Linked DNA regions of Homo sapiens: regions 1, 2, 3, 4, 5 and 7 are each reported to be linked to region 6. The links are microRNA targets in miRTarBase. Many come from high-throughput screens and were not tested one by one. Region 6 holds a microRNA gene; each other region holds the end of a gene's coding sequence.

The links. The annotated mature microRNA hsa-miR-548x-5p reads UGCAAAAGUAAUUGCAGUUUUUG and lies in region 6 at 2,076-2,098, shown strand. An mRNA with a match to its seed (bases 2 to 7 or 8) in the 3' UTR can be bound and repressed. Matches are read on the target gene's strand: a 7mer-m8 pairs with bases 2 to 8, a 7mer-A1 pairs with bases 2 to 7 and ends in A, and an 8mer does both.
Region 1: the mRNA of KIF13A is a reported target of hsa-miR-548x-5p. The part of its 3' UTR that is shown has no 7-base or 8-base seed match.
Region 2: miRTarBase lists CREBL2 as a target of hsa-miR-548x-5p. Seed matches in the 3' UTR shown: 7mer-A1 at 999-1,005 and 7mer-A1 at 2,610-2,616.
Region 3: the mRNA of GNPTAB is a reported target of hsa-miR-548x-5p. Seed matches in the 3' UTR shown: 7mer-m8 at 894-900 and 7mer-A1 at 906-912.
Region 4: the mRNA of UBXN2A is a reported target of hsa-miR-548x-5p. Seed matches in the 3' UTR shown: 7mer-A1 at 2,383-2,389 and 7mer-A1 at 2,077-2,083.
Region 5: miRTarBase lists CFL2 as a target of hsa-miR-548x-5p. Seed matches in the 3' UTR shown: 7mer-A1 at 2,510-2,516, 7mer-A1 at 2,259-2,265, 7mer-A1 at 2,030-2,036 and 7mer-A1 at 1,568-1,574.
Region 7: miRTarBase lists MED12L as a target of hsa-miR-548x-5p. Seed matches in the 3' UTR shown: 7mer-m8 at 2,060-2,066, 8mer at 1,934-1,941, 7mer-A1 at 1,334-1,340 and 8mer at 1,097-1,104.

The regions. Positions count from the first base shown.
Region 1 is chr6:17,760,859-17,764,927 of GRCh38, forward strand. It overlaps KIF13A (kinesin family member 13A), which reads right to left. Exons shown (of 39, transcript NM_022113.6): 39 at 2,835-4,069. The coding sequence ends at 3,252. Among named protein-coding and RNA genes, the nearest start is that of NUP153-AS1, 56 kb to the left of the region's middle.
Region 2 is chr12:12,641,300-12,645,368 of GRCh38, forward strand. CREBL2 (cAMP responsive element binding protein like 2) reads left to right here. Exons shown (of 4, transcript NM_001310.4): 4 at 695-3,809. The coding sequence ends at 699. Among named protein-coding and RNA genes, the nearest start is that of CREBL2, 31 kb to the left of the region's middle. RefSeq lists an enhancer at 2,013-3,212.
Region 3 is chr12:101,743,607-101,747,668 of GRCh38, reverse strand. It overlaps GNPTAB (N-acetylglucosamine-1-phosphate transferase subunits alpha and beta), which reads left to right. Exons shown (of 21, transcript NM_024312.5): 21 at 428-2,170. The coding sequence ends at 505. It overlaps LOC124902997 (a long non-coding RNA gene), which reads right to left and starts at 3,679. Exons shown (of 2, transcript XR_007063424.1): 1 at 3,640-3,679; 2 at 2,702-2,881. RefSeq lists enhancers at 3,592-3,701, 3,822-3,911.
Region 4 is chr2:23,999,478-24,003,546 of GRCh38, reverse strand. It overlaps UBXN2A (UBX domain protein 2A), which reads right to left. Exons shown (of 7, transcript NM_181713.4): 7 at 1-3,875. The coding sequence ends at 3,680. Among named protein-coding and RNA genes, the nearest start is that of MFSD2B, 8.6 kb to the left of the region's middle.
Region 5 is chr14:34,709,469-34,713,533 of GRCh38, forward strand. It overlaps CFL2 (cofilin 2), which reads right to left. Exons shown (of 4, transcript NM_138638.5): 2 at 3,786-4,065; 3 at 3,592-3,668; 4 at 1-3,509. The coding sequence ends at 3,397. Among named protein-coding and RNA genes, the nearest start is that of CFL2, 3.1 kb to the right of the region's middle.
Region 6 is chrX:38,021,978-38,026,046 of GRCh38, reverse strand. MIR548AJ2 (microRNA 548aj-2) reads left to right here and starts at 2,061; the gene lies at 2,061-2,152. All of the region lies in intron 1 of SYTL5 (synaptotagmin like 5), which reads right to left.
Region 7 is chr3:151,432,137-151,436,205 of GRCh38, reverse strand. MED12L (mediator complex subunit 12L) reads right to left here. Exons shown (of 45, transcript NM_001393769.1): 45 at 1-3,454. The coding sequence ends at 3,402. It overlaps IGSF10 (immunoglobulin superfamily member 10), which reads left to right. Exons shown (of 8, transcript NM_178822.5): 8 at 1-3. Among named protein-coding and RNA genes, the nearest start is that of IGSF10, 27 kb to the left of the region's middle.

The DNA.
Region 1 (4,069 bases), not on the chromosome of region 6:
ACCGTGAGGTTGTGCCTCCCTGGAATGCAGAGGCTGGTGAGTTCATGCTTCTCATCCCCACCTCCCCACCCCACCCACAGCACCTACTCTCAGCCCAGTCCACACCCATCACAAGAAAGGGGCTCTTCCTGAAGGGACCCACAGGATTGGTTTTATTATGGAATCCAGTGCTGGAATCCACATTGTAAAAGCCCTGAGGTGATGTTTCAAGGAAAAGTAATGACAGCAACAACCAAAGTAAAAATTAAGGAAAAAAAGTGACTTCTGGATGTGCAGTCTAAGTCATTTCAGGGGTTTGAACAAAGTCAAACTTATGGTTCTCAGAAAAAATTTTAAACTGTCAAAACAACTTATTAAAACCAATGTAGCAGATACATTAAATAAAAAAACATTTAAATTTTTGTAGAGACAGAGTCTCGTTATGTTGCCCACGATGGTGTCAAACTCCTGGGTTCATGCGATCTTCCTGCTCTGGTCTCCCCAAAGTGCTAGGACTACGGGCGTGAGCCACTATGCCTGGCCGCCAAAATTTTTTTTTTTTGAGACAAGAGTTTAGCTCCTGTTGCCCAGGCTGGAATGCAATGGCACAATCTCAGCTCACTGCAACTTTCACCTCCCGGGTTCCAGCGATTCTCCTGCCTCAGCCTCCCGAGTAGCTGGGATTATAGTCATGTGCCACCACTGCCGGCTAATTTTGTGTTTTCAGTAGAGACAGGGTTTCTCCATGTTGGTCAGGCTGGTCTCAAACTTGTGACCTCAGGTGATCCGCCCGCCTCAGCCTCCCAAAGTGTTGGGATTACAGGTGTGAGCCACTGCGCTCCGCTAAAAACTCTTTAAAGGAGAAAAATCTCCATAATCCCATCATCTTGATATAACATGTTTGTAAATTTCACTTTAAACCATGATCTTTGGGAGGAACGTACTATTCTGGAAACTTTCCAATCCTTACCTTTTCCTGTTGGGTTCTAAATAATCTAGGCAATGAAAAAAGAAGGGGGTTGTTGCTCCTCTTCCCTCTTCTATGGGCAGTGCTTCCCACAGTATGGCCCTCAGATAACCTGTCTCCTATTACTCTATGGGGATGCGAGGGGATGGGGAGGAAGGAAGGGTTTGTGAATACCTTATTTCCCCTGCTGCACACTGTATAAAGCAAAATCTTAGGGCTGGATGGCAGTGACTCCTGGGAATTTGAATTTTTTAAAAATTTTAATTTTTAAAATTATTTAAACAGAGATAGGATCTTGCTCTGTTGTCCAGACTGGTCTTGAGCTCTTGGGCTCAAGTGATCTTCCCGCCTCAGCCTCCAGAATAGCTGGAACTACAGGTGCAAGCCACTAAGCCCAGGTGAATTTGAATTTTTTTTTTTTTTTTTGAGACGGAGTCTTGCTCTGTTGCCCAGGCTGGAGTGCAGTGGTGCGATCTTGGCTCACTGCAACCTCCGCCTCCTGGGTTCAGGTGATTCTCCTGCCTCAGCCTCCCGAGTAGCTGGGACTACAAGCATGTGCCACCATATCCGGCTAATTTTTGTATTTTTAGTAGAGATGGGGTTTCACCATTTAGCCAGGCTGGTCTCGAACTCCTGACATCTGGCAATCCACCTGCCTCGGCCTTCCAAAATGCTGGGATTACAGGCATGAGCCACCATACTCGGCCATGAATATGAATTTTTAAGAGGCCTGCCACACCCTCCTTGCCCCTAGAGTTTGTAGCACCTTTAGGTTTGAGAAGCAAACCTAATCTTACAGTAAAGAATTAAAGAGTCTTTGACACTGGCCTTCTTGACGAACAAGGGTTGAAAAGCTGATGTATACCAGCTGTGTAGCTTCTGCTTTAATCCAGGTAAAGAAAGTTGAAGACCTAAACAAATGCATGTATTGCTTGCAAGAATGGTGGTGAGTGACTCTATCATTATTCTTATGTCGGGGAAGGAAGTCTTTTTCTTGTCAGAGATGACTGTTTAGGTTTTGGCAGTTCAGTAATGAGTATGCTGTATAAATGACCATACATTGAAATTTTAAGGGCTGTTATGAAAAGCAGGGGCAAAAGCCACATCAATGGAGTAACTTGCTCGCAAAACAAAGGGATAGAGTAGCAGCATGATTATTTTACTTTTACCAAGCCTCTTTCTAGCTCTGTCAGTTCTTTATTTTGCTAAGCCATGACTCTCCCATGCCTTTTACAGCAAGTTGGGGGACCAAACAAATGAATGTGAATGGGAATAAATGGTGGTACTTCAGAGCAGAATGCTCAGAAGCAGAACATCTCTTATTTATGTAATTTGTGATTTTCCTTAGTAATAGTGGCAAAAACTCATTTTGTTCCCGTATGAAAATTAACCAATATTAGTCAGGCACAGTGGCTCATGCCTATAATCCCAACACTTTGGGAGGCCAAGGGGGATGGATCACCTGAGGTCAGAAGTTTGAGACCAGCCTGGCCAACATGGTGAAAATATAAAAAAATTAGCCAGATGTGCTGGCACGTGCCTGTAGTCCCAGCTACACGGGAGGCTGAGGCAGGAGGATCACGTGAGCCAGGGAGGTGGAGGCTGCAATGAGCCAAGATCGTGTCACTGCACTGCAGCCTGGGTGACAGAGTGAGAGCCACACTCCATCTCAAAAAAAAAAAAAAAAAAAAGAAAAAAGAAAATTAACCAGTATTATAAACTGAGTTACTTCCAAAGTCCAAACTTCAACTGCTGCTGGAATTTGCCTATACCGCCCCAAAGCACTTTTTCACCTACGGGCACCAAACGACTGTCTATTTCCAATTCTATGATATATATGTTTTTCTCTCCACACTTTACCATCTCTGAAATTGGGGTGTCTTACAACTGTTGATATGACAGAGTTTAATTGGCAGTATTTTTTCTTAATGATACATAAAATAATGGTTCATATAATAATCAAAGGAATCACAGATTTGATGAAATATGGTAGATGCTACCAGAACACTTTGGGAAAACTGGTAACTAAACATCCCAGGGAATGAATATGAGATTGATCCTTATCCATCTGAACACTTCATTCAACACCAACCCATGTGCCAGGTAAAAAAATCCACTGGTCTTATAATTTCACAATTGCGTTCTAGTTCCCAAAACAGACTTGCTCTCCGACAGAGACAGCTGTGCAGGAAGTGAGCCTGCTTCTCTGTGGGCTCATCTTTGCTGTCACAAACAACTGGATGAATCTTTCCTACCAAGTTGTTGCGGTGAAGGGCCTCTGGGGTTGACATACAGTTAGACATACTCATTGACAGCACAGAACCCAAAAGGCTGCCTCTGGAATTATTACCTGGTCATTCTCTAACTTGGAATGCAGCTGGCTGGGGTGGTGGAGCCCATCGGAGACAGTCTTGCCGCCTGTTTTATTTGGTAGACTCCTCCTACTGGAAAGCTCTCCAGCAGAAGAATCTGTCAAACCATCAAAATCTTTTCCCTCTGACACTCCCATAAATTCTGTGAAAGAATGGTCTTCAAGGATGTTGGTGGTGTGTTCTACCGTCACCTCCCTGGGGCAGAATCCCCTGGCTGGCTGGCTAATTTTGCTGGGGCAGGCATCTAGTTCTGAACATGAGCCAGTCCTGCACAGTGATTTGGAGTTTTTCTCAGGGATGCTCTGGGATGATGGGCTCCCTTTGGCTAAGGCACTGTTTTCCTTGAGTGGCACCACAATTATCTTGTCCTTTACCAAGCCTTTTTCGACTTCTGTCAACTCTTTGTTTGAGGACGGCCTGAAATCATGCACAAGCGATGGTGTGGAGTGCTCGGTGGAGTCTGCATCCTTCGTCTGAATGGCCAGCTGGTCTGAGCTGTCACTAGAAGGGACCACCATGTCAGACAGGGTGGCATTGGAGGCACTGTGGGAAAAGTAGCCACTGGTAATACTGCTGGTGGTAGGGCTACGGGACACTTCTTTCTCCAAGACCCGTGAGTTTGACAGATCTACTTTAGAGGAAAACCATTCCCTGTTCTCCAAGCTGGCATTGTAAACACTGAAGTCAGCAAACTCCACAGGTACATAAGGCTGTGAACTTATTAGCTTCCTGTTAATAGCTTCCAGCTCAT
Region 2 (4,069 bases), not on the chromosome of region 6:
AACAATGTTTCAATATTTTTTTTTTTGAGAAGAAGTCTCGCTCTGTCACCCAGGCTGGAGTGCAGTGGCACGATCTTGGCTCACTGCAACCTCTGCCTCCCAGGTTCAAGCGATTCTCCTGCCTCAGCCTCCCAAGTAGCTGGGGTTACAAGTGTATGGCACTGCACCCGGCTAATTTTTTGTATTTTTAGTAGAGACAGGGTTTCACCATGTTGGCCAGGCTGGTCTTGAACTCCTGACTTCAGGTAATTCACCCGCCTTGGCCTCCCAAAGTGCTAGGATTACAGGTGTGAGCTACCACGCCCATCTAGAACAAACTTCTTATGTTTTCAGTATTTTTTACAAAATTGAAGAAATCGGCTTTTTGATAACTTTTATTAGATAACATTTGTCTTCATCTAGGTTGACAAGTGCACTAAAATATCAGACTCCACCACTATACAATTCACCCACGTAACCAAAAACCACTTCTACCCCAAAAGCTACTGAAATGTTTAAAAATTAAAACATTTGGCTTCATCTAAATTAAATTAATGGAAAAAAGCCAAATCAGCTTTTTTTTAGTCTGTATTTTTAAAAATTAGCCTTACTGAAGATACTAAACTGAAAAAAAAAATTTATGCATCTTAAAACAGATTAATCAAACTTTATTGACTCTAAAAACATTCTTACATTGGTAACTTTTATTTTTCAGGGTGAAGATTATATAAAGATGAGTCAGTGATTGAAGCCAATATTCTGATTCCCATGGAAGATGGATGGGCAAGAGTGTACTTCTTGGCTCCATTTACTACCTACTGCTCAGTAGTCATCTCTGTAAATCTGCAATTTCTACCAAAATGTGTGATCGTAGATCTCAAAGGATCTTGCTTTAACTTTCAACACTTAGAAAATCTACAAACATTCAGACCTGTCTGGGTTGGTATTGCCACCCATGACATTTAACATGTTGTGATGCTTGAAAACACAGGAGTAGAGAAAATCGATGAAGATTGTATTTTTGCACCTTAACTCCACATTGCTTTATTGGTTAATTTATATTCTTTCCATGTAATTCATGTAATTGTATGTCTGTGTGTGTTTTATGTGTCACCACCTTTCATGTTTTTGATTGCCCTACAAAGAGAAACCAAATGAGCTGATTACTGACTATAAGTTCTCAGCCTTTATGGACCTAATCTTATTTTTATTTACTTGAGTAATGTTTATTCTCTGCATGAACCATGATTTCTCCTGTGAGCCATTCCAGCATAAGCTGTGAATATGTATTAACAAATATATACATTTCTATTTTTATAATCCATAAGGATATGCCTGTTTTAAATAACATACATATTAACAATATCTATCAGGAAAACCCTCAAGACAGCTTCTAGTTAAAACCTTTGTTGCTGTCCTCTCAAACTATATTTATAAAAATTTGCTAGGGCCAAATCCATACTTGCAGAATAATTCATCAAATTTTATTTTTAAGTGAAAAGTAACCTTTCAGGCATTTCAGCAGCATACATTGACAATCTAGGGTATATATGTATGTATGTTTCTTATTGTATGTCTATATATGTATGTGGGGAGGACAGGAGTGAATGTTCACACACTTTTCTTGCGTACTCAACTAAATTGGAGAATGTTTCTGAAGAAAATTGGATGAAATTAGCTGCTGAGATTGAGTTTCTGCCTTAAAATCTGAAACAAAAAAAGGGACAAATTGCTGGTAGATCTACTGACTGTAGCCATCACCAGAACACTTAGTTTCTTCCCAGACATGAATTTCCTGACAGGCTCTGAGCCAGAAACACACTGTGGGCGTGCATCTGGTTCAGCCCTGGATATGCCTCCACTGTGGAGGGAAGCATTGGAACTGGAGTTGTGCACAGCACCGCAGCTAGTGGGCCTGGCTGGGGGTGCAGAAGGGCAGGGTAGTTCTTTCCATTTCCCCTTGCAGCTACACTTACTTTCTCCCTGACTACCAAATGGAGTGACGGTTGAAGAATCAAGCTCATAATATGATACACCCAGACAGACCCAGAAATCTTTTGATTTCCCCAGCGAGATACTTACCACTCTCTCTTCTCTTTCCCATGGTTAAAACAGGAGTTGTGTTCTCTGTCGCTGCTAAATTATTCTTCACTTGAGTGAAGCAAATATTTAGCTTCCAAATAAAGTATATTTTGTTCTGAACTGGCAGTTTAAGAGGAGATACCGTAGTCTAGATTGTCTTTGAGGTAGAATATATGATGGACCACATAGTTTAAGATTACAAGGTACTTTCCCTCTTCTCTCAGGCCATGCATTTGAATAAAGTGCCTCCCTTAGCCTGAGCTCCTAAAGACCTCTTGTACTTGGTTGCAAACTCAGATCTCTAGTCTAGTCTAGTCTAGTCTAGTCTAGTCATGTGTGACTGTGTACTGAGATACCACTAGCCCAGTTTGCTGGGTCTCTATGTTTTGGAAGTTGGGGGTTTAATAATATTTAATGTCTTTTTAGGATCATAAACATAAATAGGTTTGTTGATATTCAGGCCTTCAGAATTTAAGGGTTTTAAATATAGCATTCAGATTGTAATTGGTATGTTTTTGCCATCTGGTCCACTCAATTGTATATTTTTATTTTGCAAAACAACCCAAAACTTACTTTATGTTGCTTTGTTCAGTACCTTTTGAATTCCCCCAGAAGAGTTGTTTTCAAAACAAACATTCCAGAATGAATGTCGCTCTTCAATGGAACGTCTTTATTGTGCTTGAAGTATTTCTTCTCTGGTTGTAATTCTAAATTACAGAGTCATTTGAGCTTTCTCCCCTCCCGCTAGTATCTTTACAGGAGCAGGGAAGAGCAGTAGAGGATGTATAATTTTGGGCGAAGTTAAATTACAATTTATTTGAGGTTATTCCTAAACCTATTTATTTGGTGTTTTGGAGGAGATCACACACTAAGAGAACGTTGATTGCCTCGGCTATTGTGCTGGCTGGACACTTTGGTCACTTTTGAAGCATGTTAATAAATGTCACTGATTAAAACAGCTGGAGCATTTCCTTCCCTTTCCAGTGAAGGAGCAGCATAGTGAAATCCTGGCACCCCTCACCTTTTTGTGATGACAAGATGGCTGACAGTCACGGAGTCCAGGAGAAGGTGCTGCTCTCCTTGCTTTCTGAGTAAACAGAGTAATGTTTTTTTTCTTATTTTCCCAAAGAAAGAAAAGGGGGAAAATATATTTGTATGTTTAGACCAGCCAAATTCTGTCATTATTTTAGTATCAACCTGCTGTATATTAGAGCAACTGAATATAATATGGAATAAGTTTGACCAGGTCAAGTTTTAGGATATAGTTGAATTTCTTTAAAAAGTTTTCTATTTTATCTAAAATCTTTCCATTATATCTAAATTAGAATGATCATCCTGCGCAAATTCAGATTACTGTTTGCTGGCTAATTGACAGTATTTCTCAGCATCACTATGTAGCATTCTGTTTTAGCATCTTTGAATTATGATCATTTGATTTGGCTAATTACAAAAAGTACAGGTTTAAACTGGACTTAGCTTGAGTTAAAGGCAAAGAAAATCTAAAAACATAAATGTTATATTTCACAAGAAATCAGTTGCATATTATCCATTACATATTTAGTTTTAAAAGGAGGAGTCACCTTGAATTATTTTCTGAGTCACCTTGAGTTATTTGATCTCTCAGCCTGCTTTCTCATCTGTAAAAAAGGGGGGAGGATAACTTTCACAGGGTAATTGGTAGGCTAAATAGGAGTTACAGAAAACTGTTAAATAGGGAAGAACTACATTAAATTTAAATATTCACATTATGCCTGTGTTTGACTATTGTTAGCATTTAAGTCACTAAAGATCAATATATTTAATGAGTTGGACTCTAAATATGTGGTACTGTAGGTATCACATTTCCCAAGTCTTTTTAGCTATATCATGTCTATCTTCGGAATGGTATAGTCGGGGGCCCTTTTTATCAATAATAGCCTTCTATTAATTAGACTAATTTTAAGAACAACTAATACTTCAACTGGCAATATCATCCTATAATTATCCACATAAAGTAGTCTTTCAGGCT
Region 3 (4,062 bases), not on the chromosome of region 6:
CTCCTACAGATGAAGGAATAAGCCATCATATCAACCCAGAGACAGTGTCTTATGGCTAAATAGAGCCAGTTTCCTTCAATAGAAAGACTTGACAAATGGACATCTTGAAAATAAATATGCTTTGGTAATAGCTGTGTAAAAATCTGTAGTTGTAGGTCTTAGAAAAATGAAGCATGGGCCGAAATAATTTTAATCCTCTTGGGTCTCTTTGTGGGCACATATCTAGGCATACTGTCCCTACAAAGCTAAACAAAACTAATATTTGTTTTTGTTTTGGAAGAGGAATGATGGAGATTTGTTTGTTGTCTTTTTAATGTATAAGATTGTGGAAATGATTAAGGTCATATGGCTCTTAGAAAGTTTGATGCACTTATATTCTTTCATCAACGTGAGAATTAAAATGTATTTTCTGTCTTTCATCATTTAGTTAATTGCACTTAAGCGGAAGATATTTCCCAGAAGGAGGATACACAAAGAAGCTAGTCCCAATCGAATCAGAGTATAGAAGATCTTCATTTGAAAACCATCTACCTCAGCATTTACTGAGCATTTTAAAACTCAGCTTCACAGAGATGTCTTTGTGATGTGATGCTTAGCAGTTTGGCCCGAAGAAGGAAAATATCCAGTACCATGCTGTTTTGTGGCATGAATATAGCCCACTGACCAGGAATTATTTAACCAACCCACTGAAAACTTGTGTGTTGAGCAGCTCTGAACTGATTTTACTTTTAAAGAATTTGCTCATGGACCTGTCATCCTTTTTATAAAAAGGCTCACTGACAAGAGACAGCTGTTAATTTCCCACAGCAATCATTGCAGACTAACTTTATTAGGAGAAGCCTATGCCAGCTGGGAGTGATTGCTAAGAGGCTCCAGTCTTTGCATTCCAAAGCCTTTTGCTAAAGTTTTGCACTTTTTTTTTTTCATTTCCCATTTTTAAGTAGTTACTAAGTTAACTAGTTATTCTTGCTTCTGAGTATAACGAATTGGGATGTCTAAACCTATTTTTATAGATGTTATTTAAATAATGCAGCAATATCACCTCTTATTGACAATACCTAAATTATGAGTTTTATTAATATTTAAGACTGTAAATGGTCTTAAACCACTAACTACTGAAGAGCTCAATGATTGACATCTGAAATGCTTTGTAATTATTGACTTCAGCCCCTAAGAATGCTATGATTTCACGTGCAGGTCTAATTTCAAAGGGCTAGAGTTAGTACTACTTACCAGATGTAATTATGTTTTGGAAATGTACATATTCAAACAGAAGTGCCTCATTTTAGAAATGAGTAGTGCTGATGGCACTGGCACATTACAGTGGTGTCTTGTTTAATACTCATTGGTATATTCCAGTAGCTATCTCTCTCAGTTGGTTTTTGATAGAACAGAGGCCAGCAAACTTTCTTTGTAAAAGGCTGGTTAGTAAATTATTGCAGGCCACCTGTGTCTTTGTCATACATTCTTCTTGCTGTTGTTTAGTTTGTTTTTTTTCAAACAACCCTCTAAAAATGTAAAAACCATGTTTAGCTTGCAGCTGTACAAAAACTGCCCACCAGCCAGATGTGACCCTCAGGCCATCATTTGCCAATCACTGAGAATTAGTTTTTGTTGTTGTTGTTGTTGTTGTTTTTGAGACAGAGTCTCTCTCTGTTGCCCAGGCTGGAGTGCAGTGGCGCAATCTCAGCTCACTGCAACCTCCGCCTCCCGGGTTCAAGCAGTTCTGTCTCAGCCTTCTGAGTAGCTGGGACTACAGGTGCATGCCACCACACCCTGCTAATTTTTGTATTTTTAGTAGAGACGGGGGTTCCACCATATTGGTCAGGCTTATCTTGAACTCCTGACCTCAGGTGATCCACCTGCCTCTGCCTCCCAAAGTGCTGAGATTACAGGCATAAGCCAGTGCACCCAGCCGAGAATTAGTATTTTTATGTATGGTTAAACCTTGGCGTCTAGCCATATTTTATGTCATAATACAATGGATTTGTGAAGAGCAGATTCCATGAGTAACTCTGACAGGTATTTTAGATCATGATCTCAACAATATTCTTCCAAAATGGCATACATCTTTTGTACAAAGAACTTGAAATGTAAATACTGTGTTTGTGCTGTAAGAGTTGTGTATTTCAAAAACTGAAATCTCATAAAAAGTTAAATTTTTGTCTGACACTTTGATTTTTAAATCTTTGAGGATTGAGTTTACTGTTACTCAGATTCAGCAGTCACTTGAGTGCCTTTACTGTGTATCAGGTTCTGTGCTGAACATTACTAAAATTAAGTGGAAAGTAAGGAAAGATTAGTATTATACAGAAGAATGTTGCTTTATGGGGGGAAAATAGTTTCTAAATGGAATTTATCATATGGTAAAATTTAGGATATCTGGGTATCATTATAAAAGCTGAGATTTATTCTAGAAAAGTTAGAGAAATGAACATTTGTCTGTAATGACGATTTCTGTGGTTAGATGAATATAGTCCATACCTAATTAGGAGCTTGATAATGGGATGGATAATACAATCATAGGCTATTCATAGACTCATTCTAATGATTCTGTGATTCAGTAGAATCATTAGAACAGAGGAACCTCAGAAGTTGATGAGCAGTCAGATGGTCAGAACCATTTGTTCAAATCCTATAGAAAAGGTCACTCTGTGTTTTAGTTTTTTTGTGCTGCTGTAACAAAATACCTCAGACTGGGTAATTTACAAAGAACAGAAATTCATTTTCTTACAGTTCTGGAGGCCGAGAGTCCAAGATCAAGGGGCTAGCAGGTTTAGTTGTCTGGTGAGGGCTGCTTTCTGCTTTTAAGATGGCTTCTTGAATGCCGTGTCCTCACAGAGCAGAAGGGCAAGAAGGCACAAACTGCCTCTGTCAAGCCCTTTAATAAAGACATCTAATTGAATTGATGAGGGCTCTGTTCCCATGACTTATCACCCTCTGAAAGCCCCACCTCATAATACTTTTAAATTGCCAGTTAAGTTTCAACATGAATTTTGGACAGATAAAAATTCTGTGATACAAAAGAAGGAAGGCTGCTTCTCCTGCCTGATTCTCAAGGTGTTCCCTCCAGCTCCCAGGCCCTTCGGGCAGAGTTTCAAAACAACTGTCTGGACGAACCCTTGCTTTTTATCGGCAAGGACACCAAGGCCACGGGGATGACATGACTTGCTCAAGGTCTTACAACCAGTTAGAGGAAGAGGTAGGGTGGGAACCCGGGTTGTCCCTCTTTCCTGTCCCCACCAGCCCATGCTGCCTCCCCAGGACTGTGGCACATGTGGGTGAAGAGCACACTCTGCAGTCAGACTACGGGAGTTCAAGTCCTGGATCCTGGACACTGCTTGCCGTGATTTAGCTTTCTCTGCCAAAATGTGGGAGGCAATACTGGTAGCTACCACAGAGGCTTATGGTGATAATTAGAGGAAATGACATGTGCAACACACGCAGCCCAGTGCCTGGCAAATAGTCCTGCCTGCTAAATGTCAGTGGTGATGATGGTAATGATGAAAATTCGTGTTAAAGACTGTTGTCCAGGCCAGAGGTGAGGCTCCTAGTCTAGTCATTAGGGTGAGATGATTATATTGCTCTTAGCTAAAAAAGTGACACATTTTCTAATTACAAAGGATTTTTTTAACCTACCTTATGTCTTCAAAAGTGTTTTTTGTTTGTTTGTTTCTTTTGAGACGATCTCACTCTGTTGCCCCAGGCTGGAGAGCAGTGGCGTGATCTCAGCTGACTGCAGCGTCAACCTCACAGGCTCAAGCAGTCCTCTCACCTCAGCTTCCTGAGCAGCTGTGACCACAGATGTGCTCCACCACACCTGACTAATTTTGTTTATATTTTTGTAGAGACAGGGTCTTACTGTTATCCAGGCTGTCTTGAACTCCTGGGCTCAAGCAATACTCCTGCTTCGACCTTCCACGGTGCTGGGATTACAGGTGTGAGCCACTGTGCCTGGCAAAAGTGTTCATTTTGAAAATTATTTCTACATATACCAAGAAGTATACAAATAATAACAGATTAAGCATTTAAACTAAAGGGTAATCACTACTTACGTCAAAA
Region 4 (4,069 bases), not on the chromosome of region 6:
GGAAGGCTGGGAGCTAGGAAAAGCAGCATTCTCACAATAGACTGCAATCAGAAGATAGATTTTATGTCAGGTCATCTAGTTACATAGATATTTCCCTGTTGTTATTCCTGAGTCCTTAGTAAAAACCTTAATTAAATGTTCCAGCCTTGTCTCGGCTGTGCTATAGGAGGTAAAGCACAAGTTTATGTCATGATTGGTTCAGTGACAAAAGGGAACAGACTCTTTCCAAGAGCAAACTGGGTGACAAGGATAAACTTAGTGGTCTAGCAGATGTGTTTCAGTGGAGTCTCCCACCGTCCATGGTGAAAGCATGCAGGTTTTATTTTCTCAGGGTAAAAGCTTAGGACAGAATTTCCTGAAGAAAGGTACTTCCACCACATACTTAAGAATCACGTGAGATTAAAAATGCAGAGATCTGAGACCCATCACAGATACAGTGAATCAGAATCTTTGTGGTAGGTGGCAGGAATGGCATTTTTGAAAAGCTGCCCCAAATGATTCTGAAACTAAGGCTTCAGAATCATTGTGAACCATCACTTTATATAGATTGGTTCTCAAAGTGTGCCTGAGGGATCCCTGGAGATTCCCAAGACCCATTCAGGGCACTGTGAAGTCAAAACGTTTTTCATAATCATACTAAGGCATTATTTGCTTCTTTTCATTCTTTCACCAGTATACAGAGGTGTTTTCCAGAGTCTACATGATATGTGACTGCACAACAGACTGAATGTAGAAGACATGAGAACCCATCTATCTTCTTTATGACAGAAAGTAATTCCCCCCAAAAAACCGGCCACTTTTCTCACTAAATCGTTTCATGTTTTATAAGTTATTATTGGCTGGGCACAGTGGCTCACGCCTATAATCCTAGCACTTTGGGAGGCCAAGGCGGGCGGATCACCTGAGGTTACGAGTTAGAGGCCAGCCAGGCCAACATGGCGAAACCCCGTCTCTACTAAAAATACAAAAATTAGCCAGGCGTGGTAGTGGGCGCCTATAATCCCAGCTACTCGGGAGGCTGTGGCAGAAGAATCGCTTGAACCCGGGGGGACAAGTTGCAGTGAGCCAAGATCGCGCCATTGCACTCTAGTCTGGGGGAAAGAGCAAAACTCTATCTCAAAAAAAAAAAAGTTATTATTATTACGGCAGGGTCTTACTCTGTTGCCTAAGCTAGAGTGCAGTGGCGCAATCTCGGCTCACTGCAACCTCTGCCTCCTGAGTTCAAGCAATTCTCCTCCCTCAGCCTCCCTAGTAGCTGAGATTACAGGCATGTGCCACCACACCAGGCTAATTTTTGTATTTTTAGTACAGACATGGTTTCACCACATTGACCAGGCTGGTCTCGAACTCCTGACCTCAGGTGATCTGCCCGCTTTAGTGTCCCAAAGTGCTGGGATTACAGGTGTGAGCTACTGCACTAATTTTTGTAATTTTTATAGATAGAGTTTTGCCTTGTTGCCCAGGCTGGTCTCAAACTCCTGGGCTCAAGTGATCCACCTGTCTTGGCCTCCCAAAGTGCTAGGATTACAGGCGTGAGACACCATGTCCAGCCAGAAGTTATTTTTAAATGAATAATTTTTTTTTTTTGAGAAAGAGTCTCGCTCCGTCACCAGGCTGGAGTGCAGGGGCGCAATCTCGGCTCACTGAAACCTCCACCTCCCGGGTTCAAGCCATTCTCCTCCCTCAGCCTCCCACGTAGCTGGGACTACAGGCGCATGCCACCACACCCAGCTAATTTTTTTTGTATTTTTAGTAGAGACGGGGATTCACCATGTTGGACAGGATGGTCTCAATCACTTGACCTTGTGATCCGCCTGCCTCAGCCTCCCAAAGTGCTGGGATTACAGGCGTAAGCCACCGTGCCTGGCCCATAAATAAATATTTTAAAAATTTAATATTTAATATAATAATATATATAGCTCACATAAACAAATGGTCTTGAGATAAAAATGTTTGAGAGTTGCTGTTTCATAGCAGGCATCTCGCACCCTATGAACATTACTGCTGCTATGGACCACTTAGTTCCTTGGCACACTCAATGCATGCTTCATTTTAAATCTGATTCAATAGATCATTTGCAAAAAAAAATGTTAAACTTATTTTCAGGTATGGGGATTTAATCTGACAGTGAAAAATTGAGGTCTAACTGGATTTAGTTAAAGTCTGAGATATAAAGCCTGTTTTTCTTCGTGATATCAAAATGAAATAATCTTTAAATGTATTCACAAGTTGACTCTGATGTATGAAACAGAAAACCAGCTGGGCACGGTGGTTCACACTTGTAATCCCAGCACTTCAGGAGGCCTAGGCAGGCAGATCCCCTGAGGTCGGGAGTTCGAGACCAGCCTGACCAACATGGTGAAATCCCGTGTCTACTAAAAATGCAAAATTAGCCAAGCATGGTGGCGCATGCCTGTAATCCCAGCTACTTGGGAGGCTGAGCAGGAGAATCTCTTGAACCCGGGAGGTGGAGGTTGTGGTGAGCTGAGATTGCGCCACTGCACTCCAGCCTGGGCAACAAGAGCGAAACTCCATCTCAAACAAACGAAAAAGAAACAGAAAACCATACTTTATATGATGCATTTAAAAAATACTAGTAATGTGACACACACCGGCATTATATTCTAAGTGAGTGGTGGCAAATGAATGGCTAATCCCAAATGTTAGCCAAAAACAAATCCATAATTTTTGAAAGAAAATAAAATGGAAAGGGAATAGGCTTTTTAGAAAGATAATTTTCTTTTATTACATTTTTATAAAGTGTAGAAATGTGAGTAGGCAGATTAATCTTGATACTATACTGAGCTACACAATTTTATTCTTTTATTTTTTAAATTAAAAAAATATATAGACAGGGGTCTCACTCTGTTGATCATTCTGGTTTTAAACTCCTGGCTTCAAGTGATCCTCCCATCTCAGCCTCCCAAAGTGCTGGGATTACAGGCATGAGCCATTGCACCCGGCCACAATTATTTATATTTATTTTACTTTATTTTATTTATTTTTGAGAGGGGGTCTTGCTCTGTCGCCAAGCTGGAGTACAGTTGCTCAATCTCAGCTCACTGCAACCTACACTTGCCAGGTTCAAGAGATTCTCCTGCCTCAGCCTCCCGAGTAGCTGGGACTACAGTTGCGCACCGCCACGCCCAGCTAATTTTTGTATTTTTACTAGAGATGGGGTTTCACCATGTTTGCCAGGATGGTCTCAATCTGTTGACCTCGTGATCTGCCTGTCTCGGCCTCCCGAAGTTCTGGGATTACAGGCATGAACCACTGTACCCGGTCGTATTAGCTATTTAAAAACTCAGACAGCTAACATTTAAATAAATCCCTGCTGTCTGGGAATGATGTCTGAATGAATATTGTGAATACATATGCTAATTTATACCATATTAAGATTCTAAACAATACAGCTATTTAATATATCTTGATAACTGGTATTTGAAAATAAGTCTATTTTTCTGGGTAGTCTTTTGGAGAAAGTGCACTGAATATAGTTTCCAGTCATATGCTACTTTCTTAACTTGTACTTATCTAAACATCTTCTCATCAGGAGAGAGTTCAATAGTACTCGAACCAAAAGTCTAGTGAGTCTGACTTCTCCAATCCCCAATTTTGGTTTGCATGTCCACTTACAACCATCATTTCTCTGCAAATTTTCCACTTAGTCTATCAAAAATCAGTGCTCTGAAAGTTCTCTAAAAGATGCAGTTTTTTGGAGTCTCTGAATGATGACAGCATTCTGTAAATCTGCTTCTTCCAGTGTGAGTGTCTCATCTAGCAACCTGAGGACAGGAAGAGCTGTTGCCAGGGAAAACGGAGGACTTCTTTGAGATCCTTGGTATTTTTCAATGAAGTCTTTGATATGGCTTACTCTGTAAAACAGCAAAAACTATTAATATAATTTTAGGAAAATTTGAATTACCTAATTTATAGTAACAACAACTGGTAAAAGTATCTGGATATGTTATTATTAGAGATAGCGTCTTGCTTTGTCACCCAGGATGCAGTGCAGTGGTGCCATCATAATAACTCCTGGGCTCAACTGATCCTCCTGCCTCAGCCTCCC
Region 5 (4,065 bases), not on the chromosome of region 6:
TGTCTTCAAAAGCAGTATTTGAGCTTTTGAAGTGGTGGCTCATGCATGCAATCCTAGCACTTTTGGGAGGCGGAGGTCAGAGGACAGCTTGAGCCCAGGAGTTGGAGATCAGCCTAGGCAACATGGCCAAACTCAGTCTCTACAAAAGAGATACAAAAAAAAAAAAAAAAAAAATTAGGCATGGTGGTGCATGCCTGTAGTCCCAGCTACTTGGGAGGCTGAGGTGGGAGGATCATCTGAGCTGGGAAGGTTGAGTTTGAAGTGAGCTGAAATTTTGACACTGCACTCCAGCCTGGGCAACAGAGTGAGACCCTGTCTCAAAAAAAAAAAAAAAAAAAGGCAACATTTACTGGGACCTGCCTGCCCACCTCTAGTAGCTTTAATACTATTCATAAAAAAATGAACATTCACGTTGTTTTGCATCTCCACCTACTATTAAATGTGCAAGCAAAAACAGGACCTATGAAGAGCAAAATGAGACTGTTTTTTCTGAGTGGCAAACCTAAGAGTCTTCTCAACCTCTTGATGATTTACCATTGTTGAGATTATTCCTTAACAAGAAAACACTTTTAAAAGAATTTCCTCCCAAAGCTTATTTGCCAGATTCCATAAATTAGCTGCTACAAATGTTCTGTATCAGAGAAACTCAAACCCAGTAAGAGGCTTCTCTTCCAATGTACGAAAAAGGCACATTTCAATACACAATGCTGGCCACACTATTTTAGATAATGATGGAAAACAACAGCTGATAGCCAGTTTGGGACACATGCCAACTGTTCCCATTTGTCTGAAAATGCTAAAATTAATTGCTGTAACACTCAGTTTTTAAAGAAAATTGTTATTGATAAATGAGAAAGTATTACCAACTAAAATCCTGAAAAACAGAATAAAGATAATGATGCCTCTTTGATCTGAAATACCAGTTTTTAAACTTTTAATGTTCTGAAGTATAAGTAAACACATCTCAACAGCTTTACATATTTTCATATATTTTATTTTTTAAACTCTCATAACTTTGCAAGCTAGCAGTAAAATATTGCCTTCAATATTTTACTAATTAGCACCGTATACCTTTTAAAGCTAACTGGAACATTGATTCATTATAAATGATTGTAAAATAAAATGATCATTTCAAATGCCAAATTAATCTCAAATAACAAGTGAACTATTATTAATTTTATCTCTTTTTTTGGCTCTACGCACAAAGATGTATTTCAAAGATGAACTTAATTATATTAGTATCAGTTTTGTCAATCTAGCAAATCAAAGTATCACAGTTTAAAGCAATATTTAATCTCTGAAATTACTAGAGGCATACAAGAAAGTTAAGGAATCAGCTACAAAAACAAAAGATACTACATAACTGATTTATAGTCCCTTATTTTTTAAAAGAATGAGGAAATAACTCAATGAAAAATTCCATGGTGCCAAGTATCAGTTACACATATGGTTAAGTATACGTCAGTATTCTCTGTTTTGCTTATCAGAGTTTGGCCTTACCAAAAACCATCGAAATGTCCAGGATAACTCACAGGGACAGCTGGAAGCCTGAAATAAAATTGCTCAGTGCAAAAAGATCCCAAACCATTCATATAATTTTAAATGGAAGCCTAGACATTTAATCCCTATTTTTAATGTTCACATCTGAAAAATCTTTCAAAAATATGGAAAAAATCTAATTATACTAAAATTACTTCCACACATTCAAAAAAAATTTTTAAGGGATATTTTCTTTCCTGTTTTCTGCTAAAAGCATTCCTCTGAGCTATGGGGTTAAGTTCTGAGCCACGACTGACTGCTTACTAGCATGCCTGTTTTGCATACCAGTAGAATCAAGTCCAGTTTTGCCATTTGTGGATAACTATGACAAGATACAAAAGCATGTGTTTGCCATAAATAGCCCTGGCTAACAGCAAACCGCTCACACTGAGCAGATCAAATTCTCTATAAGGAGCACAGTCTGGACCATAGCCAAATCCCACTACTAATGTTTAAGACTGCTATTATCAATTCCTATTCCAATTCAATTTGCAAAATATATTCAGAAATAGTAGGTGAAATGACTGTTCCGAAACATCAGAAGTATCATTAAACTTTTAAAGGACATTTTACAAATTATTTTCATTACGACCAAATAAGCAATAAGAGCTTCCTGCTTCTACTATACAACTACTTAGAAATGTAAATGTGAATAAAAAAATAACTATGCTAATTTATCCAGAGAACAAATCAGATATTGAAAAGTATTTATGCCAAAGTGCAAAAAATAATTTCTGATCTTCATATTAACACATAGGAAATAAATACACTAATGTTTATAAAAGTACCATTCTTTAACAATGGTATTTTATATTAGTTGGCCTTAAGATAGAATACTTTTTAAACCAAATAGATCCAACAAATCTGGAAAATATCACACATGAATGCTGTACAAAAAAAATTCTCAAATGACCAGTGCAGAGATTAGTAATAGCTGTTTTTACCCTAGAAGTTGTTTCACATAACATTTTGCAAAATTTCCAAGGAAAACAAGGCAACGTTCTGTAATATGCCACAATTTTTATTGCAACGTGGCCATTTTTGTGAGGGTGGGGAGTTTGATCTCAAAACAATGTTCCATTTAAGGCTCTTTTATACAGAAATTGCCATCATGACTGATATTCAAAATATCTTTAGTGTTGCAGGACTCACATGGTAAACATAAAACTCCTACACTTATTCAGTAGTGTACACTCAATGGAAAACAAAAAGGCATTAATAACAGCTATTTCTTTTAAGAAGATATGCAGGTAACAGGAATGAACACTGAGGTACTAGGATAAGTTGATGACACAGTTAACAAAACTTAATTGGCATTCCTTTTAGGATATTAAACTTATTACAAAAAGTGCTTTTAATGCATAGTGTTATATCCGTGCTGCCATATCACTAAAATAGGCTTGCCAAGGCAGGTGAGGTGTATGAATGCTCAAGCCTCACAGAACTGCAATCAAGTGCCAACTATAAATAATACTGAAAAAAGTTGACCATCTGACCAGTGGATAATACTTTCAAGGCATTCAATTAGCTTATCCTTTGCAGTATTCTAAGCTATTCACATTGACGATCACATACATTGTAGTGCTTGCTGCAAGGGAGGCATATAACCAGTTGTTTTGGCTAAAATATGACAGGAAGGCATTCCTTGGGTTCTATATAAAAGTAACAGTATTCAACAGTCTAATGGCAATCACTGATAGGCTGCTTAAATAAATGATATTTCCTTCATTCATTGTGTTGGAAGGGCCCAGTGGAAAGGGGGAAATACAACAAAAAACCAAAACCTAATACTATTCCAATGGACTGAGCTGGAGAAATGGAAGCTCCTTAAGATCCAGATGGCACTTGACTGTCATTTTATAATGGTTTTCCTTCAAGTGAAACTACTACATTGCCTCCCAATTTCTCTCCAAGTGTCGAACGGTCCTTAATATCATCCAAGCCATTTACTTGCCACTCATGTTTAATACCTAAAAAGAAAAAACATTATCCTATTACTTTATTATAATTAATAAAGAATAATTTCTCTGCCCCAAATATTCAAGTTTGTACCTGTAAATTTCTTTTTAATGGCATCTTTAGAGCTAGCATAAATCATCTTGCTTTTTAAAGGTGCACTTTCAGGAGCCCTACAGAAAAAAAAAAAATTATTGAATCCCATTTATAAGAAAAACAAAGGTAAGACTGACTATGATAATAATAATCCTTGCATTTTAAAAGTACTTTTTTCTTTTGTTTTTACACACCAGAATATAAATACTAGGTCTTCTTTCTTAGACTCTTTTGTTTCGTATGTGGCATCGTACAAAGCATATCGGCAATCATTCAGAGGTAGCAACTTCACAAAAGATGTGTAGGGGTCCTCTACAGTATCACCAATGTCACCCACCAAGATCTGCTTTGCTTCCTCTACAATTATTTGTCTTTTGTCATCGCTTAAACAGAAGAGAACTGCTTTCTTTCTCTTTTTGATCTCCTCTTGTGTAGAAGATTTCCTTACTTTCATATCATTAAAAACTTTGATGA
Region 6 (4,069 bases):
TGCTCAATCTCACTTCCTTCCAGACACTTTTGATTATAAGTTGGCTTCCCATAGAGCTCTCCCTTCAGGAGTGAATGTTCTGGTCCTGTCTATGGAGTTCTCCATATTTGGTTTAGTTTGAACCCATGTCAGATCTGTTTGCTGTGTGCTAACCAAATCAAATTTTTCAGCCTTTGCACTGAAGACCAGCATCTGGACTGCAATGACTTCACCTGAGGATATATCATCACTGTGTGTCTCTTTTCAGCGATTTCATACCTCACCTGGAGAATCCCTTACCCATTACACATTTTAATCAAGTAGAGAAAAAAATGAGTAATTGATCCTCATTCTTTTAGTTAAATGGGGCTAGTAAACACTAGTCAGATTAGGAGGGTGAAATTCATTTTTCTTTTATTGTTCAATTCCTAACTTAAACAGATCTCTCTCTTTAAATATAGATGTAGATTTTTCCCTCTGTGGCCAGTAACTTTGTTGAACTATGCTAAGCTGTTTAGAAAGATGGCAAGATGCTTTGTATGTCATTCTATTGCCTTTCAGCATAGATAACTTTGGACAAGTCATTAACTTCTGATTATCAAAAAGATGTGGTAGTCAAATACTCTCATAGCATCACAAAGGGACATAAGTTTAAAAAGCATCTATTTTGAGTAACACACACCTAAAAATAATAGGGGCCGATATTTGAATCAAAGGAAAGGGTATATCTGAATATATCTCATTACTGTGTACTTGAAATGCAGCTTTAAATATAGAATGTTTCTGAGAGTGCTCTTAGGATGAAATTAATAGAAATAAAGTTAATTTCCTGTTTGACTGTCACCATGTGACAATACAAATTAGATGAATTTTCAGCACACTTACAGAGATGTTTAGGATGCTTAGAATACAAGCTAAATCACATACGCAAAATACCCTTGAGGATGCCTTTCAAATAGAGGAGCAGTCATCCTGCAAAGCAGCTGTGATTGGATTACCACAAGCACAGCAGTCCACAAGACTGTCAAAAGGTAAGAACTGTCATGCTGTGGATAGAGAAAAAAGTAGTACTTTTACAACGAACCCCAAACTGAATGACTCAAAGAGAGATGCTATGGAATTACAGGAATTTCTTTGCAACAGAGCTGTTTCTTCTCACACGGGCAATTCTGTGTGGTACATTATATGGGAGTGCCATAGTCAAGATTTTTTTTTTAATTTCACAATGATATGGATTCTTCAAATAACAGTAGAGAGGCTAACAGTGCCATCAACTTCATACCAATACTTCAAGAGCAGTATCCTCAGAATGCTCCAAATAATAACCACTAACACTTATTCAACTAATCCTTATGACTTCCTAATGAAACAAATTGCTATTATTCCTATTTTATAGATGAGAAAACTGAGGCACAGAGATGTTAAGTAACTTGCCCAAGGTCAACTGGTAAGTAATTCAGAATAGTTTGGTTTCAGGGACCCTGCTTGTAACCACTACATTTGAGGCCACACAGTGACTTCATGGAACAACAGTATCCCATGAGATGTTATTAGATATTATATGGAATTGTTAACAGTGCTGTATTAGTCCATTTTCATACTGCTATGAAGAAATACCTGAAACTGGGTAATTTATTTAAAAAAAAAGAGCTTTAATGGACTCACATTTCCATATGGCTGGGGTGGGGGTCCTCACAATCATGGTGGAAGGCAAAGGAGGAACAAAGGCACGTCTTACATGGTGGCAGGCAAAAGAGCGAGTGCAGGGTAACTGCCCTTTATTAAACCATCATATCTCGTGAGACTTATTCACTATCACCAGAACAGTATGGGAAAACCCGTCCCCATGATTCCATGATTCAATTACCTCCCACCAGGTCCCTCCCACAACACGTGGGGATTGTGGGAGCTACAATTCAAGAGATTAGGGTGGGGACACAGCCAAACCATATCAAGTGATGTAGTTCAACAAAAAATTTGGATATGTAGAGTTAAACCAAGTTAAATATTTTTTTTTCTACAGAACTTCTCAGAGTCTTTAATGTCCACTGTGAATTTTCACAGAGCTCTCAGTTTGGAAAAAGGTATTAGGTTGGTGCAAAAGTAATTGCAGTTTTTGCTATTACTTTTAATGGTAAAAACTGCAATTACTTTTACACCAACCTAATATTTAAGATCACTGTTTATTTTCTTGGCATTGTGTATTTTGATATTTTTAAAGAGAAGACTACTTCTACCTTTAAAAATGCTGGCTAAGAGAAAGCCTTAATAAAAATTTCAAAAGAGAAAGATTTGAAAAATAAGTTATAAGATAAAGTTTGTAATAGTCTAAAGTTAGAAACTGTTAGAATCTATTAGAGTTAGAAGCTCTCGAAGCTGGAAAAGAGAGCAATACCGATGTTCAATTTTAAAATGAGGCATTTAAAATAAATATATTGACATGGAAAATATCTAAGTTATATTGCGAGCTGAAAATAGACAAGATAATTATGCTTTTTAATGCAAATGCTTTTAAAACAATGCAGTAGATATATGCATGTACATAATAAATGTAAATGCATAATAAAAGGCACAGGATAATACATATTGATAATGAATCAGGTTGCATATGAAGATGAGAGTTGGATTGTTAGGGGTCAGAGAAGGGATGAAAAGGGACTTATTTCCATATTGTTTATTATTTTGGATGTATTCATGTAACCATATATTATGTCTTTAAAAAATTTTCAAGAACCAATAAGGTGTGGTGACTGACTAGAGTAAGAAGCCAAAGAAAGAAAGAGGCTAAAAATAATGTTAAGAATTGAATCCTAGAAGAAAACAATAGGGAAGATGGAGAATGTGCTGGCTTTTGTGGGAAATAATGGATTTGGGTTTCAGACATGCTGTGAATTAGGTGACACCACCGTGGTTCATCAGCATCATAGTTTTGTGCCTCCAATCTGGCTCTTCTATATGCAATTCCAAAATACAAATTGATAATTGTTGCTTTTATACTGAATACCCTTTGATGTCTTCCCTTTGCTCTTTAAGAGTTCAAGTTGTTTAATATGGTTTACAAAACCCTTCATGATTTGTCCCTTGCTGATCTCTCTCTCTCGTATCTATCCTCTAACCACACTCAAAAGTTCATTCCTCTAAAAAAGCCATAATCTTCCTCACCTCCAGATCTTCCTATTTGTAAGACTCTGCCTGGGATACTTCCCCCATTTCTCCATCTCCTAATTCCTAAGTATCCACAGGGATCTACTTAAATGGCTGACTCCTAGTTTAGCTTAGCTATCTATGATAAACTGAATAATGGCTCCCAGAGAAGTCCACATCCTTATCCCCAGAACCTGTGAATATGTTACCTTAGATGGCAAAACTTTGCAGATGTGATTACGTGAAAGGTCTTGAGATAAAGAGATTAGCCTGGATTAGATGGGTGATCCCAATGTAATCACAATGATCCTTACAAGAGGGAGGTAGTAGAGTTAAAGTCAGAAAAGCAGGTGTGACGACATAAGCAGAGGCTGAGGTGATGGGCTTTGAAGTTGGAGGAACAGCCACAAGCCAAGGAATGCAGATGGCCTCTAGAAGCTGGAAAAGACAAGGAAACAGATTCTCCTGCAGGCTCCAGAAGAAATGCAACCCTGCTAACACCATGATTTTAGTCTCCCAAGACTCATTTTGGACTTTTAACCTTCAGAACTGTAAGATAATACATTGTATTGTTTTAAGACAATATGTTTGTGGTGATTGGCTACAGCAGCAATTGGAAACTCATAGTATCTATCCAATACATTTTCATACTTCTCTTACAGTAACACTGTATCAGTTGGGATAGGCTAATACAGCTTTATTCAAAGTTTGGGTTGCAAACCAGTGCAGGTCTGTAAACTTACTGGTTTGCAATTATATAAGTAAAGAAATTAAGAATAAGCATTTAGAAATTTTTATAGTAATTTGACAGAGTAATTTTAAATCTGTTGAATCTGATGAAAATTTGTACTTGAATGTTTATGTATTTCATGTCTCATTTATCTGCTAATTTACTTAAATTGTATTTTGCAAAAATACTATTCTATCCAGGTTGAAAATAAAAGTA
Region 7 (4,069 bases), not on the chromosome of region 6:
AAATAAGCACTGAACTGTCTTATGATTCACCATTTGTTCACACTGAAAATTTTCATTGATGGGGAATACAAAAATGTTTTAATAACTGCATTTAAAAATAAATGCAGGCTCACTTTTCCACATGTAAAAAGCAATGTAATACCTGCACATCATAAAATGTGAAAAGGGGGTTATTTTTGTCCAAATACACCCATTAAAAAGGTTTTAAAAATACAATGAAACTTCTTTATAACTTTAAAATCTAGCTCAGGCACCCCTGGTTTGGAGCTGTTTATAAGGAAATTTTTCTGAGCAGGAATCGTTGCTCTATAAGCATTTCATTTCATTAATTCTTTATGGGATGGGAAAATGCTTGGGAGGGTCTAGGTCTATTATATATAATGAAGTTTCACTGTATTTAAAATCTGATCAATCCTACACAAAATGTGTTTTTGTAATTCACTGAATTTATATTACATGCTTAATTCAACCTGAATTAATTTGGGGAATATTAAATGATTGATCTTATCTAAATCTAGGGGTGGGGTTTTCCAGTGTAATTTCTCCAGCATCTATTCAAACATTCACCTAGTACTTACTTAAGAATTATAGGAGCTTTATAAATGGGAAAAAAATGCCATAGGTCTTAGATATCTCAGTGCACAAAACCGAGAATTACTAATAAGTTAGCCCCTGCCAATCATTTGAGACATGTGGAATAGCGCCCTTGGGTTTTCATCACACTGACTTTCAGTTAGCCCCATCTCAGCCTAAAATGTGACCTGGTTGCAACTTATGTCTGATGTTAGTACCCTGTGGCTGGAAGTGGTCAAAGCTACGCATTGATCTCCTCTACTTCCAGGCCAAGAAGGGTAAATGCAATGACTGACAAATGCAACCCTATTAAGAAAAAGCCTACAGTGTAAACAAGAGAGTCTATGGGCTTCTTATATCCAAGAACTGTGATTGATTGATAGGTATAGCTGACTCCATTTGATTTCAAGGTCTTGTCTTTAAGGGGAGCTGGGGTCTCGCTCCATCTTATTCTAAGGTAATTTCCTCTGGTAAGGTAAAGTACCAGGTTCTGCCACAGGGCTTTACCTTGTGACCATCTTAATGCAAAAGAATGCATTTGCAAGAAAAGAAAAAAAAAAAAAAAAAAAAGAAACCTCTCAAGATACAGAATTAACAGGGAGAAAATCTGAAGACTAAAGTAATTCTAGTTATTTTCTTTATAATGCGCAGGGGTAAAACAGCATTCCTCAACTTTCAATAGAATCGTGGAATTAATTAGAGTCGTAGCATAACTTCCTCACCTAAAAAAAGAAAAAAGATATGCCCCACAGCTTTCATGTGCAAAATGATTAATAATTTAACTCACCTCTGCAAAGTATAAAGTGCATACAAATGCTATGCAATTATAACACTCATTCTTAAAACAGTATTACTGTTGTTTGCAATGCTGAGCTACAAAATATATGGTTCAAACTGAACTGGCAAAGAAATTTGGAAAGAAATAATGATGGAACATGACTCACTCACTAGGCACAACATTCACATTTCGGTTGATTTGCCAATGCAGTCATTATATAGATATATTACTTTGAAGAAAACAACTTCATTAGCTTATCTAAGTATGTTTCTTGAGAGGAAAAAATCTGATATACAAAACCAGCAAAAATGTGTACAGATAGATGATACATCTTCTGAAAGCAGATAGACTATTAATTTAGTGAAAAGAATAGTTTTTAATGTTTTGGCAAAGTCTTTTCCAGCCCAGAGTAAACACAAAATGGGCAGGCTGGAGTGAAATATTTTCACAGTGTACAAAGCAGTTCACATGGATGTTGCCACAGCAAAGTAAGCTGACATGTATTTGAGGTCATTTGCATGAGTCAAACTTTGCAATGAGTAACTCACCCAGGAAGATATAAATTATTTATAGATAATGATTTGCAAAAGAAAATGTCTACTAAAGTTGTACTAGCTACATTTTAAAAAAAGTAGATTTACATGGTCTGCTCATTATAGACAAGTCTATTCACAGTATGCTTGACTATATTATATGTAAAATCATATGGCAAAAGAAAATGAAATAACAGAGAACATGGGAAAATATCCCCCACATATGTTTTAAAATGCCCTGCAATTTTCACATTCAAAATTTTATGCATCTAAATCTAAAAAAATATTATATAGAATACTCTTAAGTTACACAAACTGATAATTTACTGGTTTCTTTTTTACTCTAATAGGAGCAAATTACCACATACTTGAACAAAGTTAAAATAGTTACTATTTCTTTATAATAAATTTGATGTATAATTTACTTGTGCTTTTTGCACCAATTTATAAATACAGTATATGCAATACACAACCAAGACTGACACTGACAGTAATAATTAAATTCAAAAGAGCAAATACTTACCATACAAAATAAACAGCAAATACACCTTTTATGAAAACCAGAGCCTTCTGGACTTTGGGGCCAGATTCTCTGGAAACCATGTCAAGTGTGAGCACTGGAATCTCAAGCCAGCTACTGGATTTTTTTTTCCCCTTAAGGTGGCATAAGGTTCAGGAGAACCAAAACTGGCAATAAATAGTTGGACGATTCCACTGCAGTTCTTTCAGGCCTTTAGGATTTACATGTTGTACCTTCACAATGACTCTCATCAATGATCTTGCCTCAAAACAAATTTGAGTACAGCTACTTCTAACAGGTTTCCGCACATCTTAGGGCGGCTCTCAAAGAAACCTTGGTTTAGGTTCTTGGTTTAAGAAGTTTAAGTACGAAGCAACAATCTGTTTCAGCACCTTTTGACCACAACAAAAGCAAAGAAGAGTCCTACATAAATAAGAACAAAGTTTATAAAGTGCTTATGAGATTACAAACATTTCAAATTAGAGCGATGCAAATAAATGTCCGTTTCACCATCACAGGTGAATGCAGAATAAACAGGCCATGTTTCTGTCAAGATCTGACATGCCTTTCAAATCAGTAGTTTGGTCCAGCACAGTTTGGAAAATAAAATTAAAAAAAAAAAAACAACGTCATCATTAATGAATGAAATACATAAATACCTTAGATCCATCATAATCCATTCTTTCTAGAAATGTGAGATTCAAAAAAAGCACCAATTTCAAAAGGTCTGCTAGCACACTCTTCCGGGAGTAGGCCTGCCTGCATGATTCACATTTGTAAACCTACTTTAAAGGTGAATTCAACAAAATCAAACCACAACTTCTCCTTGGCTTTTTGTTTAAACACCTTTTTTTTTTTTTGTGAGATGTAGCATAAAATATAGTAAAATGTCAAAGAAATGAAAAAAAGGGACATTTTTAAGATGACTAATGCATTAAATTTGATTTTCTGTTTTTCAGTGCAAACATAAAACGTCATGTCTTCTCCTCTTGCAGATTCAGAAGTGTGAAGGATGCCCATACGGAGTCACTCCTTGCTGTGGCTGGTTGCCTAAGGAGAAAAATAAATTGAACCAAAATTACAGACACAAAACTATTGCACAGATGGATGCTACCCTCTTGTCACTGCTCTCAGTACCAGCTGCAGGTACAGGGAAACAGAATGGCCGGAGAGTACTATCCTTGCCCTGAAAAACCCTTGTGGTGGGATTCAAGTACCACCCTGCAGAGGGGACACCTTTATTCACAGTCCACACTTGCCAATGCAAGGCCGCAGGATTTAGGTTACTGGCCCATCCAGAGTGTCTCCCTCTGAACTAAACTACTTGGTATTAACTTTCAAAAGGAATACAGTAAAAGTTTCATAAAACATTGAAAGTTCTCAAAATGCTTATGAAAGTCAGCAATTCTACTTTAACACATAATTGGTAAGAAAAAATTAGATTGGAACTGGGCAATTTTCTGCAAATAGCCATAAGGTATGTACAACAGAACTGTGCAAGAGTATATGCAGGTGCAAGACTGTCCGTGTGTGATGACTCAAGCGTGTGCCTATGTAGACATGCATGCCTGCACATGCATACAGAAACAAGGAATGGTCAGTAGATACCAAAAAATGACATGGGCTTAGAAACAGCTACTGCTTGTTTAACTCTGGAGTATTCAA